Homo sapiens: one gene and its partners. The protein of the gene in region 1 purifies or fractionates together with the protein of each later gene. This does not show direct contact. Each region holds a gene or a part of one and is shown in the gene's direction. Other genes may lie near its edges.

Region 1 (3,659 bases):
AGTGGGCACCATCCACCTGGGCGACGGGAGGGGTGGGCGTGAGGTGTGACCCTGGGAGTGGGCACCATCCACCTGGACGGCGGGAGGGGTGGGCGTGAGGTGTGACCCTGGGAGTGGGCACCATCCACCTGGACGGCGGGAGGGGTGGGCGTGAGGTGTGACCCTGGGAGCGGGCACTACTATACCCTGCTGCTTGAGGCCAACCTGGTGCCTTTTTCTGACTCCTGCTCATGAATCATCCAAAGGCCAATCCGCATTTCCTCGGTATCTAATGTTTAGTACAAAGAGAAGCAGGGAGACAAAACAAGCCCAGCTCACTGCGAGAATTGTTTTTAACTCCCTGAAGTCAGTGAAGGGGAAGGATGGTGGGGAGGGGGCGGTGAGAAAGAAGGGAGTCAAAGAGAGGGAGGGGCCGGGCGCGGGGGCTCACGCCTGTAATCCCAGCACTGCGGGGGGCCAGGCGCGGGGGCTCACGCCTGTCATCCCAGCACTTTGGGAGGCTGAGGTGGGCAGATCACCGGAGGTCAGGAGTTCAAGACCAGCCTGGCCAACATGGTGAAACCTCATCTCTACTAAAAATACAGAAAATTAGCTGGGCATGGTGGCATGTGCCTGTAATTCTAGCTACTTGGGAGGCTGAGGCAGGAGAATCACTTGAACTGGGGAGGCAGAGGTTGCAGTGAGCCGACATCGCGCCACTGCACTCCAGCCTGGGTGACAGAGTGAGACCCCGTCTTAAAAAAAAAAAAAAAGTCCAGGCGCGGTGGCTCACACCTGTAATCCCAGCACTTTGGGAGGCTGAGACGGGCGGATCACAAGGTCAGGAGATCGAGACCATCCTGGCTAACACAGTGAAACCCCGTCTCTACTAAAAATACAAAAAATTAGCTGGGCGTGGTGGCGGGCGCCTGTAGTCCCAGCTATTCGGGAGGCTGAGGCAGGAGAATGGCGTGAATCCGGGAGGCGGAGCTTGCCGTGAGCCGAGATTGTACCACTGCACTCCAGCCTGGGAGACAGAGTGAGACTCCGTCTCCAAAAAAACAAAAAGAGAGAGAGAGAGGGAGCAATGCCTTGAGGCTCTGGGAGGGGCTTCCCTGGCACCAGCTGTGTCTGTGGAGAGGTGGCCTGGATGGGTCTGGGCCTCGGCATCCTCTCTCTGTAATAAGAGGCAGTAGACATGCTCTTTAAGCCTCACCAGCTCTGAAAATACTGGTCCAATGCCCTGCCTCGCCCCTGACCAGCCCTGCCCTGTGCGCAGACTTCCCCTTGCTTGCTCTCTCCAGAGTTGGCCAATTCCTGACCTGCTGTCCTGCCCCCTCCAATCTGCCCTTCCTCCCTGTAGCCAGACCACAGGGCAGGCCTCACTCCCAGGCTCCGTCCTGTGGGTACCTGGTCCCACTTGCTCCTTGAGGGACAGTCTCTTGGGATAGAAGCTCCTCATGGGCCACCAGCTGGGAGAAGCCAAGCCAGGGGGTCTCCGTGGCCATCAGATGCTGAGCCGCACCTGTGTCTGCAGCTGCAGAACCCAGTTCCTCACCTCTCAGTTGGACACGTGTCTCCTGGGCAGAGCCAAGACCTGTGAGAGGTCTGACCTGCGTCCCCACCGTGCCCCTTCTTTCCTGATGATGCAGGTGCTCACACCTGCCCCCAAATTGCTGCCAGCCGTCTGCTTGCTGAGGTGAAGCAAACTGGAAGAGAGCCTCCCTGGTGTTTGTCCTTCCTCTGTATGAGCCTACAGATCTTTTTTTCGGTGAAAATTTCAGGCTTAGGGCAGACAGGGGCTTTGAGCAGCTGTTAATCACATTTTCTGGCCTTTATGGTAAACACATTCCAGTTTTTGTTTTTTGAGACAGAGTCTCGCTGTGTTGCCCAGGCTGGAACGCAGTGGCACAATCTCTGCTCACTACAACTTCCGCCTTCCAGGCTCAAGTGATTCTCCTGCCTCAGCCTCCTGAGTAGCTGGGGCAACAGGCATGTGCCACCACACCCAGCTAATTTTTATATTTTTAGTAGAGATGGGGTTTCACCATGTTGCCTAGGCTGGTCTCAAACTCTTGTTCTCAAGCGATCCTCCTGCCTCAGCCTCCCAAAGTTCTGGGATTACAGGCGTGAGCCACTGCGCCCGGCCACATTCAGAGTTTTGGATGTGTGATAAGGAAGGATGAGCTGAAGGGTAGGGGCCTGGAGTCTGCTGATAGGGAGCTGGTTGCTGGCAGAGTCAGGCCTGGAGGGGCCAAGTCCCTACCTTCTTATCCTCTCAGGACCCAGGTACGTTCTGCCCCAGCCCAAACTCCCTCTTGCTCTCTCCCTCCCCCGTCCTCCTGAGCACAGGGTTGGCCACCTCTTCAGCTCCTCTAAATGTCCCCAATGTCTCCTGACCTGCTGCTGTGGAACACATGGCTGGCACACCCTCTAACTCCCTCATCACATCCTCTTGTTTAACATTAATTTTTAATAGGCTAGGTACTGTGGCTTACACCTATAATCCTAGTGCTTTGGGAGGCTGAGGTGGGAGGGTCTCTTGAGGCCGGGAGTTCAAGATCAGCCTGGACAAGACAGCAAGACCTATCACTACTCTCTCTCTCTCTGTATATATATATGTATATATATATATATATATACATATATATATACACACACACACATATATACGTATATATATTAATATATACACACGTGTATATATACGTATATATATTAATATATACACGTGTATATATACGTATATATATTAATATATACATATATACGTATATATATTATATATACACGTGTATATATACGTATATATATTATATATATACACGTGTATATATGTATATATATTATATATATACACGTGTATATATATGTATATAATATATATACACGTGTATATATATTATATATATACACGTGTATATATACGTATATATATATTATATATATACATGTATATATATATATGTTTGTTTGTGTTTGTTTTTGAGACAGAGTCTCACTCTGTCACCCAGGCTGGAGTGCAGTGGCGTGATCTCAGCTCACTGCAACCTCTGCCTCCTGGGTTCAAGCGATTCTCCCGTCTCAGTCTCCCGAGTAGCTGGGACTACACGTGCCCGCCACCATGCCTGGCTAATTTTTGTTATTTTTAGTAGAGACAGGGTTTCATCATGTTGGTCAGGCTGGTCTCGAACTCCTGACCTCATGATCTGCCCGCCTTGGCCCCTCAAAGTTCTGGGATTACAGGCGTGAGCCACCATGCCCGGCCTCCATACCACTACAAATTTTTTTTTTTTTTTTGAGACGGGAGTCTTGCTCCCAGGCTGGAGTGCAGTAGCTCGATCTTGGCTCACTTCAACCTCCACCTCCCGGGTTCAAGTGATTCTCCTGCCTCAGCCTCCCAAGTAGCTGGAATTAGAGGAGCCCGCCACCACGCCTGGCTGATTTTTATATTTGTAGTAGAGACAGGGTTTCGCCATGTTGGCCAGGTTGGTCTTGAACTCCTGACCTCAGGTGATCTGCCTGCCTCAGCCTCCCAAAGTGCTGGGATTACAGGCATGAGCCACCACGCCCAGCTATTTTTTTCTTTTTTTTAAGCTGGTGTGTAGGCCGGGCGGGCGCGGTGGCTCAAGACCAGCCTGACCAACATAGTGAAACCCTGTCTCTACTAAAAATACAAA
Region 2 (3,659 bases), on another chromosome or scaffold:
GTGATCCACCCGCTTCAGCCTCCCAAAGTGCTGGAATTACAAGCATGAGCCACCACACCCGGCCAGCAACCACTACTTTTAAGCCAACTTTTTAATAATTTAAATTTTAAGGAATGCCTTTGGTGTGAAAACATTGTGCAACTATACCTATCCATAGTTTGGAGGAGAAACAAGCATAAATTAAACCCAGTAGTGTAAGATGGGTGTTACCATGCCTCTCCTTCACTCTCACTGCACGTCCTGTTGTGATGGAGTTAAGTATGCCAGGCATATACAGCATGTGTGTAATAATGCTCCAAGGATGCAAGAGAGAAGGAAGGGTTTGGAGGTGAAATTAGGGAGAGACCACTTCCTCATTCCTGGTGATAAAGTCATCTGAACTATGCATCTCATGCGATTTCTTCACAGGGCATGTACCCTGTTCTAAAGTCCTCCAGTAGACATTTTAGGTAGCAGAAGAGTGAGAAGCTAAGGCTCTAGTTGTTGATTTATTAACATACAAGTTCAATTATTGGCGATTTTGTGAAATCCATAACATTTCTTAATTTCTAGATACTGCTAGGCCTTTCATACTGAATGACATAGGATTTCTAGCTTCAAAGGAGTTTTTAAGATAAAGACTTATGTTACATATTTTCAGATTACCCTTTTTTTTTTTTTGACACAGGGTCTTGCTCTGTCGCCCAGGCTTGAGTGCAGTGGTGCAATCTTGGCCCACTGCAGCCTCTGCCTCCTGGGGGCAAGCAATTCTATTATCTCAGCCTCCCAAGTAGCTGGGATTACAGGTGCCCGCCACCACACCCAGCTAATTTTTGTTAATTTTAGTAGAGACGGGATTTCGCCATGTTGGCCAGGCTGGTCTCAAACTCCTGACCTCAGGTGATCCGTCTGCCTCAGCCTCCCAAAGTGCTGGGATTACAGGCGTGAGCCATGGTGCCTGGCCGGATTACTCTTTTTAAAAGCTGTACTTGGTAACACTTCTAACCGTCATATATGAATGAATACAACGAAACTAATCATTTTAATTTTCATATTAAAATTAAATAGCAAGATTCCAAGAATACTAGAGGAAATTAGCTTACTTTAAACCTTTTAGATTATCTTTAACAGAATATCTGATGTGCTTGTTGGTCAGTAATATTTGTTAATGTCACAGACATGTTTACTTTGTAATAGCTTAATTGCATAATATCCTCATATAAAGCAAATTAATGAAATTTATTTCATTTTTTGAAATTGCTCACATGCTAATTAAATGAATGTTTTCTGACCCTGATACCTTCAGTGTCTTCATCTATTAATGGTTTTTTAATAAAACAGCAAAATTAAAAATTTTTACCTTCATATGCCAACACACACTAAGCTCTTGTTCTCTTTTATAGGGAAATCCTCATTGACGATTCAATTTGTTGAAGGCCAATTTGTGGACTCCTACGATCCAACCATAGAAAACAGTAAGTATTGTTTTCAAGTACTTAAAAACTGAGAAGCCTTCTTTTGTGTAAAATAGCCATTGTGTATTCATGGAGGCTTTGAGTGCAGGAGGTAAATTCTGTGTGTCTCCCAATTGGGGTCAAAGAAAACTTGCAAAAGATTTACCTACTTTACCCTGAAAGATTTTTCCTTCCATGTCTGCATCCCCTGCCATCTAGAAATTATTAATTCAAGTCAGTAGGAGTCTGGCCCATTACTGGAATCTTCAAATTCCAGAATCTGCTCCAAAACAGGAATGGAGAGCACAGTCTTCTCCCCCACACCCCCTTTCTCCCAGCCATTGCAGTTTCCAGGGATTCCAAGCTTGAAAGAATGAAAAACACTCGAGATCCCTGTTCCTTATTCTTACAGAAGCCGTACTCCCACCCACATTTCTCTATACCCTTCTTTCCAGCCCTAAAGATTTGAAAGAGAAATGAACTATTCTGGGATTGGATAGAGCAGTTGCAGCATTAAAAAGAAGTTGGCTCAAAAAGCCTGTTGACATTTTAGGCCATGTGCAGAAAAAAGCAGGGAAGACAGAACCAGCCATGACCTTTACTTTGTTCAATTTTAATCCATGGTTTCAGAATATTCCTGATGGATTCTAGGACCATGAGACTATTTATTTATTTTATTTTATTTTTTAAAGAGACATGAGTCTCACAGTGTTACCCAGGCTGGACTCAATATCCTGGACTCAAGTGATCCTCTTTCCTCAGCCTCCCAGGTGGCTGGAACTACAGGCATACAACACTGTGCCCAGCTTTGAGACAGATCTTGATTCTAGGGATCGCCAAGGATAATCTGAAGCAGGGAAGCTGGTCTTTTCAGGCTTAGAACCCCAGGTGGGCCCTGGAACTAGGTTTCTCAGATTCTTGAGACCAGGACTTATCTAGGATTTGTCACCAGGAACATGTAGATTTAAACATGGGATTCATCAACACCTGATTGGCATATTAGACACGAAGCATATTTCACCGGCCGGAGGCTTGCAAGAGAATCACTTGAATGCTTTGGCTGACAGTAAAGAGCTTGGCAAACGACAGCCTGCAGGCCAGCAAGGCCCATTTCCTGTCTTTATACAGACCAAGAGCTAAGAAAGGTTTTTCCATTTAAGCATAATATATAAAAGTCCAAAGAAGAATAATGTCTGGCATGTGAAAATTATATGAAATTCAAATGTTAACCTCTATAAAGTTTTATTGATACACAGCCATGCTTGTTCCTTTACATGTTGTCCTTTACATGCTGTACAATGGCAGAGTTGTTGAATAGTAAGAGCAGAGACCAGGTGGCCTACAAAGCCTAAAATATTTACTGGTACTGTCTGGCCCTTTACAGAAAAAGTTTGCTCACCCCTCGCTTAAAATATTTGGCTGTCCTTTGTGTTCCAGTGTGCTGGTAGCAGAGAAGGAAACCTGTTGGTTGATAAACTAACTCCAGGAATATTTTTGAAAGTAACCTTTCAAGATGTTATATTTGAAAGTAACCTCTGGGTATCTACAGGGAGGAGTCCTGATTACATCCTATGATTTGTCTAGCTGGTCATTATATAATAGTAAGCAAGTGTGAGGAGCAGATTAATGTGAGTGCTGGATGAACAAGCTCGGTTTTCTGTCCACTGGAATAAGAACATAAGAAAATCATCATCTTGGACCTTAATATTTGCTATACAAAGCAATTTAGGATTTTAGATCCTTGAAATAATAAGGTTCATTTTGGAATTGTATTAACAGAACAATAGAAGATTGTTTTCTTCGTAAGCTCTGCCTCTAAAAGTGGATATTGTGGCTGTATCCTCATGCCATTTCATACTGAGCTGGAATTAGCTGGGCGTGATGGTGTGTGCCTGTAGTCTCAGCTGAGACAGGCGGATCACTTGAACCCAGGAGTTTGAGGCTGCAGTGATCTGTAATCATGTCACTGTACTCCAGCCTGGGCAGCAGAGCAAGATGTGGTCTCAAAAGTAAAAACTGAGTTGGAAGGAAAGTCATGGAGTTGTGTATCATGGAGCTATATATACATACATTTTCTTAGTAAGTAATGGATCAGAAGAAAGTCCAACTTATGTAACTTGATGTTATCTCAGAAACAGAGTAATATGACCCTACTTTTTTGAGGCTATCAACATCATCTTTGGTCATATTTTAAATTTTTTCTCATCTTACAGTTCAATAATGAAG
Region 3 (2,606 bases), on another chromosome or scaffold:
TTTTAATGACCAAGTGAAAGGCTCATATTTTTCATTTCAGTCCCGTTATTAAAGAAAAAGACCAAATTAAAAAAAAATTTTTTTAAGATAAAATATCTTGCTGTGCCTATGATACAAAGAAATTATTCACAATGGAGATTTTAAAGTGCTTATTTCCTTTATTGTTTAGTATGTTCTTCTGTGCACTTTAAGTGAAGAAAAACTGTATTGACTTTTATTTATTTTTTATTTTTTTGAGACAGTCTCACTCTATAACCCAGGCTTGAGTTCAGTGGCATGATCTCGGCTCACTGCCACCTCTGCCACCCGGGTTCAAGCAATGCTCCTGCCTCAGCCTCCTGAGTAGCTGGGATTACAAGTGCCTGCCACTGTGCCTGACTAATTTTTGTATTTTTAGTAAAGACGGGGTTTCACCATCTTGGCCAGGCTGGTCTTCCACTCCTGACCTCGTGATCCACTCACCTCGGCCTCCCAAAGTGCTGGTATTACAGGCGTGAGCCACCGCTCCTGGCCCACTTTTAAAAATATACAAGATACAGGCAGGCATGGTGGTTCACACCTGTAATCCCAGCACACTGGGAGGCCGAGGCAGGTGGATCACTTGAGGTCAGGAGTTTGAGACCAGCCTGGCCAACGTGACAAAACCCCTTCTCTACTAAAAATACAAAAATTAGCTGGGCATGGTGGTGCATTCCTGTAATCCCAGTCACTTGAGAGGCTGAGGCAGGAGAATAGCTTGAACCCGGGAGGCTGAGGTTGCAGTAGGCCACGATCGTGCCACTGCACCACAGCCTGGGCAACAGACAAGACTTCATCTCAAAAACAAACAGAAAAGAATATATGAGATACTCCCTTAGATCACAACCTTTCTTCACCTATTTTAATTAGCCTTATAATACCAGTGTATTCTTTTCATTTTTCAACAGGGATGTGTATGGGGTGTTGCTTACAGATTGCCAGTAGGAAAGGAAGAAGAAGTAAAAGCATACCTTGACTTCAGAGAAAAAGGAGGCTACAGAACCACAACAGTCATTTTTTATCCAAAAGATCCCACAACAAAACCATTCAGTGTATTGCTATATATTGGAACATGTGATAATCCTGATTATCTTGGTCCTGCACCTCTGGAAGACATTGCTGAACAAATTTTTAATGCAGCTGGTCCAAGTGGAAGAAATACAGAATATCTTTTTGAACTTGCAAATTCTATTAGGAACCTTGTGCCAGAAGAAGCAGATGAGCATCTTTTCGCTTTGGAAAAATTAGTAAAGGAACGTTTAGAAGGGAAACAGAACCTCAATTGCATATAATTTAGTCTTCAGAGAATTAACTTCAGTGCACAATGACAATATGATTTGGAAATACGTTTACTTAAAGATCTTATTTTTAATGTAGTGAGGATATTATTTAAACTTTTATTTTAACTGGAAATGTCCTGAAACACATATTTAAAATATTGGGATACAGTGAAAGAAAAATTCAAATTTTAATAACATAAAGATTTCCTAACTTTATGTTATTGAACACTTACTCACTAGAAGTGAGTTCTTTAGAAAAATACAGTGAAGGACTCAGTTCAGTCTTGTTTTTATCAGAGTGATAATCATCCTGTTTCACATCCCAATACTATTTTGAAATTCTAAACAATTAAACCAAAATTCCAATAAATATAAGGTTATGCCTTCAATATATTCCTATACAATTCTGTAACCATGGTTTAAAATACACAAGCTTAAAATAACATGCTTAGAAATACACAATAATATGAACAGTATTTCAGCCTTAATTGTGAATTTCCTTGTTATTCAAGTATTAAATGAAATCTTTTGAGTTTTTAGCCAAAAATTGGCATTTTTAAAATACGAAAATTTCCTTGGAATTATAATGTACTGTACCTCTTCTTTTTTAAATAAAGGCATTTTACTATATGGAAAATAACTCACTAAAGCATAAATTACATTATACAAATCATGATCACTAATGATGTAGTCTGTCATTCACTTTGTATTAATCTTATACCAAAACTGAAAAAGATGGGCTGATACTACAAATTAATGGCACATATAATGAAAATTTAGTTTTTAAAACAGCTTTTGGAATTCTTTGTCTGTCACTATCTCAATTTGTGTGTGTGTGTGTGTATATACATATATATACATATAAAATTTTTTTTTTCTTTGCAGCCTGCGTCTGGCCATCCCACAGGCTGGAAAGTGTAACCTCTGGCAGAAGCCAAGAACAGGCACCTCCTGGAATTATAATTTTGTTTTGTTTTTTGAGACGGAGTATCGCTCTGTTGCCTAGGCTGGAGTGCAGTGGTGCCAACCTCAGCTCACTGCAGCCTTCACCTCCCAGGTTCAAGGAATTCTCCTGCCTCAGCCTCCCGCGTAGCTGGGATTACAGGCATGTGCCACCACGCCCGGCTAATTTTTGTATTTTTAGTAGAGACGGGGTTTCACCATGTTGGCCAAGCTGGTCTCGATCTCCTGACCTCAGGTGATCCACCAGCCTCAGCCTCCCAAAGTGCTAGGATTACAGGTGTGAGCCACCATGCCCGGCCTATAATTTTTTATTTGTACAAATTTATGGGCTACAAGTGCCATTTT

What was found.
Region 2: the proteins of STMN3 (region 1) and RHEB purify together in Homo sapiens (affinity purification with mass spectrometry; one large-scale study listed by BioGRID and IntAct). This does not show direct contact.
Region 3: the proteins of STMN3 (region 1) and CHAC2 purify together in Homo sapiens (affinity purification with mass spectrometry; one large-scale study listed by BioGRID and IntAct). This does not show direct contact.

The regions. Positions count from the first base shown.
Region 1 is NC_000020.11:63,646,923-63,650,581, reverse strand, and holds part of STMN3 (stathmin-3), read left to right. Parts: intron 1-3,659. UniProt on the Homo sapiens protein: Exhibits microtubule-destabilizing activity, which is antagonized by STAT3.
Region 2 is NC_000007.14:151,488,738-151,492,396, reverse strand, and holds part of RHEB (GTP-binding protein Rheb), read left to right. Parts: intron 1-1,382; coding exon 1,383-1,454; intron 1,455-3,659. UniProt on the Homo sapiens protein: Small GTPase that acts as an allosteric activator of the canonical mTORC1 complex, an evolutionarily conserved central nutrient sensor that stimulates anabolic reactions and macromolecule biosynthesis to promote cellular biomass generation and growth.
Region 3 is NC_000002.12:53,773,216-53,775,821, forward strand, and holds the end of CHAC2 (glutathione-specific gamma-glutamylcyclotransferase 2), read left to right. Parts: intron 1-926; coding exon 927-1,310; 3' UTR 1,311-1,981; downstream 1,982-2,606. UniProt on the Homo sapiens protein: Catalyzes the cleavage of glutathione into 5-oxo-L-proline and a Cys-Gly dipeptide. Acts specifically on glutathione, but not on other gamma-glutamyl peptides.